2 separate regions of the Homo sapiens genome follow, and region 1 is linked to region 2. Evidence: fine-mapped expression QTL. A gene starts in region 2. The other region holds a variant in brackets. All regions are shown on one strand. Distances are from middle to middle.

What was found.
Region 1: its variant is fine-mapped to the expression of SPG21 in tibial artery (GTEx, PIP 0.93).

Annotation. Positions count from the first base shown.
Region 1 is chr15:64,964,138-64,969,663 of GRCh38, forward strand. SPG21 (SPG21 abhydrolase domain containing, maspardin) reads right to left here. Exons shown (of 9, transcript NM_016630.7): 7 at 5,118-5,225; 8 at 1,183-1,323. Among named protein-coding and RNA genes, the nearest start is that of SPG21, 23 kb to the right of the region's middle. The variant G/A (reference allele first, on the strand shown) is at 2,534.
Region 2 is chr15:64,987,778-64,992,777 of GRCh38, forward strand. It overlaps SPG21 (SPG21 abhydrolase domain containing, maspardin), which reads right to left and starts at 2,137. Exons shown (of 9, transcript NM_016630.7): 1 at 1,888-2,137. RefSeq lists enhancers at 1,344-1,845, 1,846-2,345, 2,401-2,470, 2,511-2,570 and silencers at 1,574-1,868, 1,671-1,720, 1,841-2,330.

The DNA.
Region 1 (5,526 bases), 23 kb before region 2:
TAGTGGACAAATGTTTTATACTTCTAAAATTTACAGACTAAGACATACTAAATAGAGAAAAGTCAAACAATTTTTTGAAACCACATTTGGGATCTTTGTTCCTCACTCCCTGAGCAGTCTCCCTGAGTCCCTGCAGAGTCTCCTGAGACATCTTAGATGGTGCATGCTCATGAGATGTTTACCCTTCCCTTCTGCTGCTGTGAGTTAGGTCCTTCCAATCTTCTGCTACTGTGACTAGTGCTGCTATGATGAATATCTCTGGGCATCAAGTATTCCTGTTTAGGATCCTGTCTTCTATAAGGGGATGACAGGATCAAGGGATATGACTGGTTTTTGGGATTACAGGTGTGAGCCACCATGCGTGGCCAGGATATAACTGGTTTTTTAAGGCTCTTGATTCATCTTGCCAAACTGCCAGGGCACTCACCCCTCACTGCTATTCTATTATCCATTTAGTTAGAGTATGAAGGGATGGTGTTTGTTAGGGCTTTCTTTTCTTTTCTTTTTTTTTGAGACGGAGTCTTGTTCTGTTGCCCAGGCTGGAGTGCAATGGCGTGACCTCGGCTCACTGCAACCTCTGCCTCCAGGATTCAAGTGATTCTTCTGCCTCAGCCTCCCGAGTAGCTGGGACTACAGGTGTGCACCACCACGTCCAGCTAATTTTTTTTGTATTTTTAGTAGAGACGGTTTCACCATATTGGCCAGGCTGGTCTTGACCTCCTGACCTTGTGATCTGCCTGCCTCAGCCTCGCAAAGTGCTGAGATTACAGGCATGAGCCACTACGCCTGGTAGGGTTTTCTTTTAATGCATTAAAATTAGATCAAGAAGTCACTTCACAGGACTCAGATTGACCCCATTTAGGTCTGGTGTCTTGCTCTGATGGAATTCACTGTGTCCAGAGGGCAAGGTCACATCATACCAATAGTAACCTCAGTGTGTGAATGCAGGCCTGCTGTCCTTAGAAAAGGGATGGTGGCCAGAGAGTCACTGGGGGATCTCTAATATACCTGTTCAAATTCTCCTACAAGTTATAAATGTAAACCACTTTTATCAAGTCAATGCCTCATTTCTACAAGGAATTCTGTAGTTCACTGATTCCCTAACTAGTCCATTAAAAGAAGTCTTTATGTTGCAAACATATGTTGGGCTCAGAGTGCTCTGGGTTTCAAGCTAGGCCTTACCTGTACATAAAGATTGACCTCTGCACTTCTGCACAGGTATGGGAAATTGCCTCCTGTTTTCAGATGAGCTCTTCGGGCATTAGGATACAGCTTGTACATTTCTTCTTTAGCTTCAGTTGAAAGCGCACTCTGATCAAACACCTTTAAAAAACACAAAGCTTCAGCACCATAGGAAAGGTAAAACACACACACACATACAGAAAGCTGTAATCAACTAGTGTTTTAATATGTTCTTTTCACATTATGGAAATGTTACCCTAAGTATTCCTTTCATATGAAGACAATCCTGAACCCCCAGCAGCCTGAACTACCTCCACTGCTGATCCCTGGTGACTTATAACTCCAACCGAAGACATTAGCTACAGATTTTGCTGCACAGCATCTCCTGCATTCTTTTGGTGGGGGGAAATTCTTTTTTTTTTTTTGAGGTAGAGTGCAGTGGTGTGATCTCGGCTCACTGCAATCTCCACCTCCTGGGCTCAAGTGATTCTCCTGCCTCAGCCTCCTAAGTACCTGGGACTACAGGCATGCGCCATCACGCCTGGCTAATTTTTGCATTTTTAGTAGAGATGGGGTTTCACCATGTTGGCCAGGCTGGTCTCAAACTCCTGACCTCAGGTGATCTGCCCACCTCGGCCTCCCAAAGTGCTGGGATTACAGGCGTGAGCCACCAAGCCCGGCTGGGGTCGGGGGAAATTCTACCATGAATTTCCTTTTTCCTCAAATATAGCTAAGTAGATTAACAGAATATTAATAGAGAACAATCATTGCAAATGTCAATAAGTTTCAAAAAGATCACGAAGCCCCAAAAGAACTTTTTACTTTTATCATTAATTTAAAGCAATAAACTAAGTCATTTAGGCTCAGTGAAAAAAATTCCAAAAAAATGTAGAGTACAAGCTATTCTTTCTTGGGGAAACCAGTTTGCAGCATATGATTCTAGACATCCTTCAATACCCATACACATTTACGTTTTTACATGCAACAAAATTTTTCAAAAAGTAAAATAAGCAAAAAAAATTGTATACTAAATATACCATACCAAATCTGTATGTTTAAGTGCATCTCCAACTAAAACTTACAGGCTGTTTTCAGTGACCATGAACCCAGGCAGTGAGCACAGCTTTGAAAGAAGGGCAGGCAGAGCAAATGTCCTGTGAGGACCATTGAAAAGCTTGTTCTATGTTATGGCAAATGTCAGAATGCAGCGATTATGGCAGAGGATGATAAGAAGTTGTTTACACGCTTATAATGAATAATTTCCCAACAAAAACCAATTATTAAAAATACCATATTATGGCCAGGTGCGGTGGCTCACACCTGTAATCCCAGCACTTTGGGAGGCTGAGGC[G/A]GGCAGATCATGAGGTCAGGAGATCGAGACCATCCTGGCTAACATGGTGAAACCCTGCCTCTACTAAAAATACAAAAAATTAGCTGGGCGTGGTGGTGGGTGCCTGTAGTCCCAGCTACTTGGGAGGCTGAGGCAGGAGAATGGCGTCAACCCAGGAGGCGGAGCTTGCAGTGAGCCAAGATCGCGCCACTGCACTCCAGCCTAGGCAACTGAGTGAGACTTTGTCTCAAAAAAACAAAAACAAAAACAAAAACAAAAAACCATATTATTTGAATTTAGGAACAAATCCATTTATAAGGCAAAATAATCATATGATTTTTTTTTAAGTAAATTGAAACCATAGTGAGATACCAATTCATATCCATTAGGATAAGTATCAACCAAAAAACCAGAAATAAGGGTCCAGGATATAGAGAAACTGGAATCTTTGTGCATTGTTGGTGGGAACATGAAATGGTATAGCCACTGTGGAAGACAGTATGGTGGTACTTCAAAAAGTGTGATTCTACTTCAAACGATATGTCCAAAAGAATTAAAAGTAGGATACATCTACTATGTACCCATAAAAATAAAAAACAAAAAATTATTTTTAAAAAATAATTTAAAAATAAATAAAAAAAAATTAAAAGCAGGAACTCAAACAAATATACATATATTTTTTGACAGGTTCTCACTCTGTTGCCCAGGCTGGAACGCAGTGGCATGATCATGGCTCACCCCAGGCTCAGGTGATCCTCCCACCTCAACCTCCCAAGTAGCTGGGATCACAGGGATGTGGCACCATGTCCAGCTAATTTTCCTTTTTTTTTTTTTCTTTTTTTTGAGACGAAGTCTCACTCTATTGGCAGGCTGGAATGCAGTGGTGCGATCTCAGCTCACTGCAACCTCCACCGCCCAGATTCAAGCAATTCTCCTGCCTCAGCCTCCCGAATAGCTGGGACTACAGGTGTGTGCCACCATGCCCGGCTAATTTTTGTATTTTCAGTAGAGACGGGTTTCACCACGTTGGCCAGGATGGTCTCGATCTCTTGACCTCATGATCCACCCGCCTTGGCCTCCCAAAGTTCTGGGATTACAGGGGTGAGCCACCGCGCCCGGCCTAATTTTCTTTATTAGTAGTAGAGACAGGGTCTCCTGTATTGCCCAGACTGGTCTCGAATTCCTGGGCTCAAGCAATCCTCTTGAGTCAGCCTCCCAAAGTGCTGGGATTGCAGGAATGAGCCACTGTGCCCTGCCCAAACATATACTTTTACACCAATGTTCATAGAAGCACTATTCACAATTGCCAAAAGCTGAACACAACCCAAGTGACCACTGACGGATGAATGGATAAACAAAATGTGGTATAAACCAACATTGGTTTTATTGGTAGATATTATTCAGCTTTAAAAAGAAATAGGCTGGGCGTGGTGGCTCATGCCTGTCATAGCACTTTGGGAGGCCCAGGCAGGCAGACAGCTTGAGTCCCAGAGTTTGAGTCCAGCATGGGCAACATGGTGAAACCCCATCTCTACAAAAAATTAGCCGAACGTAGTGGTGTGAGCCTGTGGTCCAAGCTACTAAGGAGGCTGAGGAGGGAGGATTGTTTGGGCCCGGGAGGCAGAGGTTGCAGTGAGCTGAGATTGCACCACTGCACTCCAGCCTGGGGAACAGAGTGAGACCCTGTTTCCAAAAAAAAAAAAAAAAAAAGAAAGAAATGACATTCTGACACATGTATAACATTTCAAGATAAGTCTTGTGAAACATTATGCTAAGTGAAATGGCCACACAAAAGGATAAATGTTGTATGATTCTACTTATATGAGGTTCTAGAATAGGTAAATTTTTATAGACAGAAAATAAAACCGTTGATTATCAGAGGCCGGGGGAAGAAAGGGAACAGGAGTTATTGTTTAATGGGTATGCAATTTCTTCTTGGAATGATGAAAATGTTGTGAAAATGGTGATGGTTGCCGAACTGTGAATATACTTAATGCCACTGAACTATGCACTTAAAAATGGTTAAAATGGCATATTTTAAATGTACATTTTACCACAATAAAAAAATAAGCAAGCTTTTGTGGTAATTAAACTATGGAATTCTTGATTCTCTACCCTTGTTACCCTTGTGAAGCACCTTCTCTTTGCTGCCCATATATGTGCAATATATGGTGCAATATCTATTGATGAGAACAGCAAAAATACATCAAATGGGTAGACTCCCTTGTTTAAATTTATTTTGATTCATTTTTATTTTTATTTTTTTTTAATAAATACAGACAGGGTCTCACTATGTTGCCCAGGCTGGTCCTGAACTCTTGGACTCAAGCAATCCTCCTGCCTCAGCCTCCCAAAGCGCTGGGATTACAGGCATAAGCCACTGTGCTCGGCCTATTTTGATTTCAATGGTGTTATTCCTGCCAGAAAGAAATCCAAGATAAGCAATAAACAGATTATTTTGGAATTGAGAAAGCTGGAGGGTAAAAACAAAAGCCAAGGCAGCATTTGAAGAGGTACATTGAAAGTTATCAAATAGTTTTATAGGAGATCTTGACATACACATTTTAAAAAGTAAAGCAGCTATTTTACTTAAAAGGAAGCTTACATCCATAATAGTTACAGGTATGTCCCGAATTTTATGAGGTTCCACATAAGAATTTTGACAATTCAAGGTAAGTCTTGAAGCCAGTTCACTCTGACCCAAACTTTCTAGCTGCAGGAAGAAACACAGGTAAAGTTTTTGAAATAATTTTGTTTTTCACATTTACATTAAATCCACAGACAACATTTGTGCTTATAAAGGTGGTATCATCTGTGGTGGGGCCAGAAAAGTCATCAGTGAGGAACCACAACTTAGGTGAGAGACCATGAACTGGGCTTCTCAGGAGGTTGTGGCATTTTTCTATTCTGGAAACCTGGGTACAAACCAATGAAACCCGGCCTTCTACAGCCCTCAGCCTACACTGCCTACTCCAGCCAGGTGCCCATGGGCAGCAAGCCAATTCCTACTGCTC
Region 2 (5,000 bases):
TAATCCCAGCACTTTGGGAGGCTGAGGCAGGTGGATCACCTGAGGTCAGGAGTTCGAGACCAGCCTGGCCAACATGGTGCAGCCCCGTCTCTACTAAAAATACAAAATTAGCTAGGCGTGGTGGCACATGCCTGTAATCCCAGCTACGCAGGAAGCTGAGGCAGAAGAATCACTTGAACCCGGGAGGCAGAGGTTGCGGTGAGCCGAGATCACGCCATTGCACTCCAGCCTGGGCAACGAGAGCGAAACTCCATCTCAAAAAAACAAACAAAACAGCAACAACAACAAAAACAAATTAGCTGGGCGCGGTGATGGGCTCCTGTAATCCCAGCTACTTAGGAGGCTGAGGCAGGAGAATTGCTTGAACCTGGGTGGCGGAGGTTGCAGTGAGCTGAGATCACACCACTGCACTCCAGCCTGGGCGACAGAGTGAGACTCTGTCTCAAAAAACAAACAAACAAACAAACAAAAAAACCTGCCAGTTGTGACTATGCCCCTATCCCTCATGGCTTCAACAGAACCTGCCACTTTAAAGTCAACAAAATCACCTTTATCAATGTTTAAGTCACATAACCAGCATAATTAGTCAGAGGTTTCTGCTACTTTATTTCAATCTATAGTTGATGTGCATTGTGGAAAATCTGTGCTTATAAATACTAGCCATAACAAAATATTAGAAGCTGAGAGTCTCTGGGAGATGCAACTGGCTTTTTAATGCACGTCTCCATCCCTCACCACAGAAGTACACAGCTATCCTTTTCTTAGATCTCTTCAGGGGAGATCTATCCCTCTTTTCTTCATTGCATTATCTCTAAACCTTACAGGAGGAAAAGGTGCCTACCTGACATCTGTGACATCTCTTCTCATGCTCTTGGGAAAAAAGCTTTTGGAATTTGGACACAGCTATTAAGTTACTCCTCAGTGGCCAGCCGCGATGGCTCACGCCTGTAATCTCAGCCCTTTGGGAGGCCGAGGCGGGCGGATCACGAGGTCAGGAGATCGAGGCCATCCTGGCTAACACGGTGAAACCCCGTCTCTACTAAAAATACAAAAAATTAGCCGGGCGTGGTGGCGGGAGCCTGTAGTGCCAGCTACTCGGGAGGCTGAGGCAGGAGAATGGCGTAAACCCAGCAGACAGAGCTTGCAGTGAGCTGGGATGGCGCCACTGCACTCCAGCCTGGGCGACGGAGCGAGACTCCGTCTCAAAAAAAAAAAAAAAAAAAAAGTTACTCCTTAATTTGTTGAATCTTTGTGCCAAAAGGAGCTGAACCAGTGTAGGTGGAGACAAAGGAAGCAGCATAAATGTCTAACTTATAACTCCCCAGGAAAACGAGAAGAGGAAAAATGAGACACTCCGGTCCCGCTCTGTTCCTCATCCCCCGTTTACAAACCTTACACCTGGCCCACACTCAGTAACAACAAAGACATCTATCACTTTCAGGCCGAGGTCCTGTCTCCAAAATTACTGGCCTCTGCTCACAGTTCTTAAAAGTTTGCTGAGAAAAAAAAAAAGAAAGAAAGAAAGAAAGAAATGTTCCTGGGCTGCAGTCGTGTAGCCCCAGGATGGGTTTACAGGAGGATGCCCCGGTTAAGCCCTGTGCCGCCCCCACCTCCCGCTGGAGACTCACACACAGCTCCCCGCCAGTCCCACCGGTGACAGCCACACAAAGGCAGGGTCACAAGCACACCGACCACCCCACAGCCCAGATTCGGCCCCAGACACACACTCACAAGGGCACGTGATCACGTGCGTGGTCACATGGACCGGCCCACTCAGAACACACTCACAAAGTCACACCAACCAAGGCAGCCACGCGCCACACACACACACCTACAACCCCGCATACCGCACACCCAGCCGCTTCCCAGGGCTTCGCCCACCCTCACCTGCCGTGGCCGCCCCCACGTCCCTTCCCCTCCTTCAGGAGGCCGCTCTTCGCTCCAGTACGAGCGCGGGCCGTGGAGGCGGCTGGGCCCGGGTCGGGGCGGGCGGCGGAGCACTCGGGACCCACGGGCACAGCAGGCTGCGCGGTGCGTGCGGGAGGCCGGCCTCTGAGGGGGCGGGGCGCGTGGCCGAGCGAGCTTGGGCCGCCGCGCTCCCCCCGCCCGACCGCCGCTCAGCTGGCGCGAGACTCCCGCTTCCGGGTTCTCAGAGGGCGGGGCCACGTCGCGAGGAAGGGGCGGTGCTGCGTGGCCCCGGCGGTCGCCACGGCGACGGGCGCGGGGGGAGGCTCCGTGGGATGCTTGGCTGCGGCTGGCGTGAGGAGAGGGCTGAGTTACGTCTGGGTCAGCCTTAGTTCTGCCCTACGTACCTAGGAGGAGGAGGAGGTGGAGGAGGCGCCTGGCCCCTTGGGACCTGCTTCTTCTTTCAGTTCGCGTTTTCTCTGTCGTGTACAGCTTTGGAGGGACACCTTTGGGTTCCAGACTTTGATGAACACAACTTTGTATACTCTTTTCTTAGGAACATTTTTTTTCCTTTGGCACAACCGTAGACGCTCTCCGTAGTCCTCCACTCAAAGCCTCCGCTTCCTTTTTGACGTTCTGGGGATTTCTGGGAACATACGCCCACCCATCTTCCTGTTCCTTCATCACTTTTCCCTTAAAATCAGAGAGAATATTAATACATTTGTAATCATTGTTCTTAAGGTGTTGCAGACGTCACGTCTTAAGGTGTTCCAGACTTCACGACTCCTTTTTTATTAGTAAAATATTTCTGAAATTATGATAAGGTGAATAACATGTAAATCTCCTTGTTTTGAATTTTTTTTTTAGGGATCCTGCAACAAGGTCCTGTTGAAAGTGCCTCTCTCTAATATGTTTTAGGGAAAGCTTGTACCCTGTTTTAGGGCCTGTAGACTTTGCCTTTACCTAGGCAACTGTTTATGGGATTAAGGTCAGGGAAGATTCCAACTAAATTGCATCCTACTTAGTTATCACTTCTGTCCCCTGGCCCAGGAGCCTTGGGTTCCACTCTAGAACTTGGACAAATCCCAAAAGCATTTTCCAAAAGCACGGTGACATACTTACCTTTTTCTTTCTTTCTTTTTTTCTCTAAATCATTTCTTTCGGGGTTGCAACTCAGTCGCAGGAATTCATCTTTTATTGTAAGCACCACATAGATGTATAGAGCACGTTTCCGTGGAGTATTTTAAGTTGGGGGCCTTTTCTCCAACATTTGGAATCGTTTAATGGGTGGAATAACTTGCAAACTACTGGTTGTCTCTGAAACTGGTTATGGATATTCATTACATTAGTTGTCTATTTTCCCAGGTGGTCTCGAAGCTTCAATCTAGAGCAAAGGGAATAGAGTGATTCCACCAGTCCATTAGCACATGATTAGCCCATAAATAATAGGTACTAAATGTATATTGATTGTAATCCCAGCACTTTGGGAGGCCAAGGTGGACGGATCGCTTGATTGAGCCCAGGAGTTCGAGACTAGCCTGGGCAACCTGGGAGACCCTGTCTGTACAAAAAAATACAAAAATTAGCCGGGCGTGGTGGCGCATGCCTGTAATCCCCGCTACTCAGGAGGCTGAGATGGGAGAATCTGTTAAGCCCAGATGTCGAATCCACTGCACCACATCCTAGGTGACAAAGCGAGAGACCTTGTCTGCTCCCAACAAAAAACTATATTGAATGAATTAATGAGTGGAATAAATAAATCTATCCCCATTTCCACATTTGTTCCTAAAGCTGTATTCCTTAGACCCCATCCCTAGACCCCATTTAGTAACAGCTTTAATGAGACCTAATCTATGGATATACCCGTATGTTAAAAGTCATTGTTCTGTTAGTGTGGTAGTAAACTTTGACAATTGACAATAAAAAAAAATCACTATGTAGATATGTTTTGTTACATATCAACTTTTATTACAATGTAGACCAATCCAAAAATAATAAATGTTTTACTTCTTTCAGGAAGGGAAACCATGGTCATGTTTGTGTCCTCAGTTGTTCCATAACACATGGCAAGCACATTGTCCCTTTCCTAATCCCAACAAAGAACATTTAATATCTGTGAATTCCAGCTGAATTGTAATGCACAAATTCAGGCAGCAAACTTTTGATTCAGGCAGGTCCCAGTGCAGGCTGACCTGGTAGACATGGCTGTAAGGATTTGCAGCTGTTGTGGCTGGGGTCTGCCAGATGGTTCCCACAGCACCAATTCATCTGTGAGAATCTCACAGAAAAACTGGAATGTTCACAAAATATGCTGTGAACACCAAGCAAAGTAAACAGATGGCCAGCTGGCTCTCAGAATTACCCAAACCCGGGCTCTGTCCCTCTTAATTTATCTTTTCACAGGATAATATTTGTTTGAAAACACACAAAATAATCCCAGATCCAGAAATATCCCTATGCATGTGTATACATAAGTGAATGCACTTTTTTTTTTTTTTGAGACGGAGTCTTGCTCTGTTGCCAGGCTGGATTGCAGTGGCACATCTCAGCTCATTGCAACCTCCGCCTCCCGGATTCAAGCTATTCTCCTGCCTCAGCCTCCCGAGTAGCTGGGTCTACAGGTGCCTGCCACCACACCCAGCTAATTTTTGTATTTTTAGTAGAGACGGGGTTTCACCATGTTGGCCAGGATGGTCTCGATCTCTTGACTTCGTGATCCTCCCGCCTCGGCCTCCCAAAGTGCTGGGATTACAGGCGTGAGCCACTGCGCCCAGCTGTGAATGCACTTTTTAAAATGTTTGGAGAGGTATGTACCAAGCAGCTAAGTGATTACCTCGGAGGAGGAACTGGGGATGGAGGGAGTGGTGAAGAACTTTGACTTTGGATTTAATAGTTGAGTTTATATTAAAATGTATTCATATATTATCTGTGTGATCAAAATAATTAAAAGCAGCCAGGCATAGTGGCTCATACCTGTAATCCCAGCACTGAGGGAAGCCAAGGCGGGTGGATCACTTGAGGTCAGGAGTTCGAGACCAGCCTGGCCAACATGGCAAAACCCCCATCTCTACTAAAAATACAAAAATTAGCCGGGT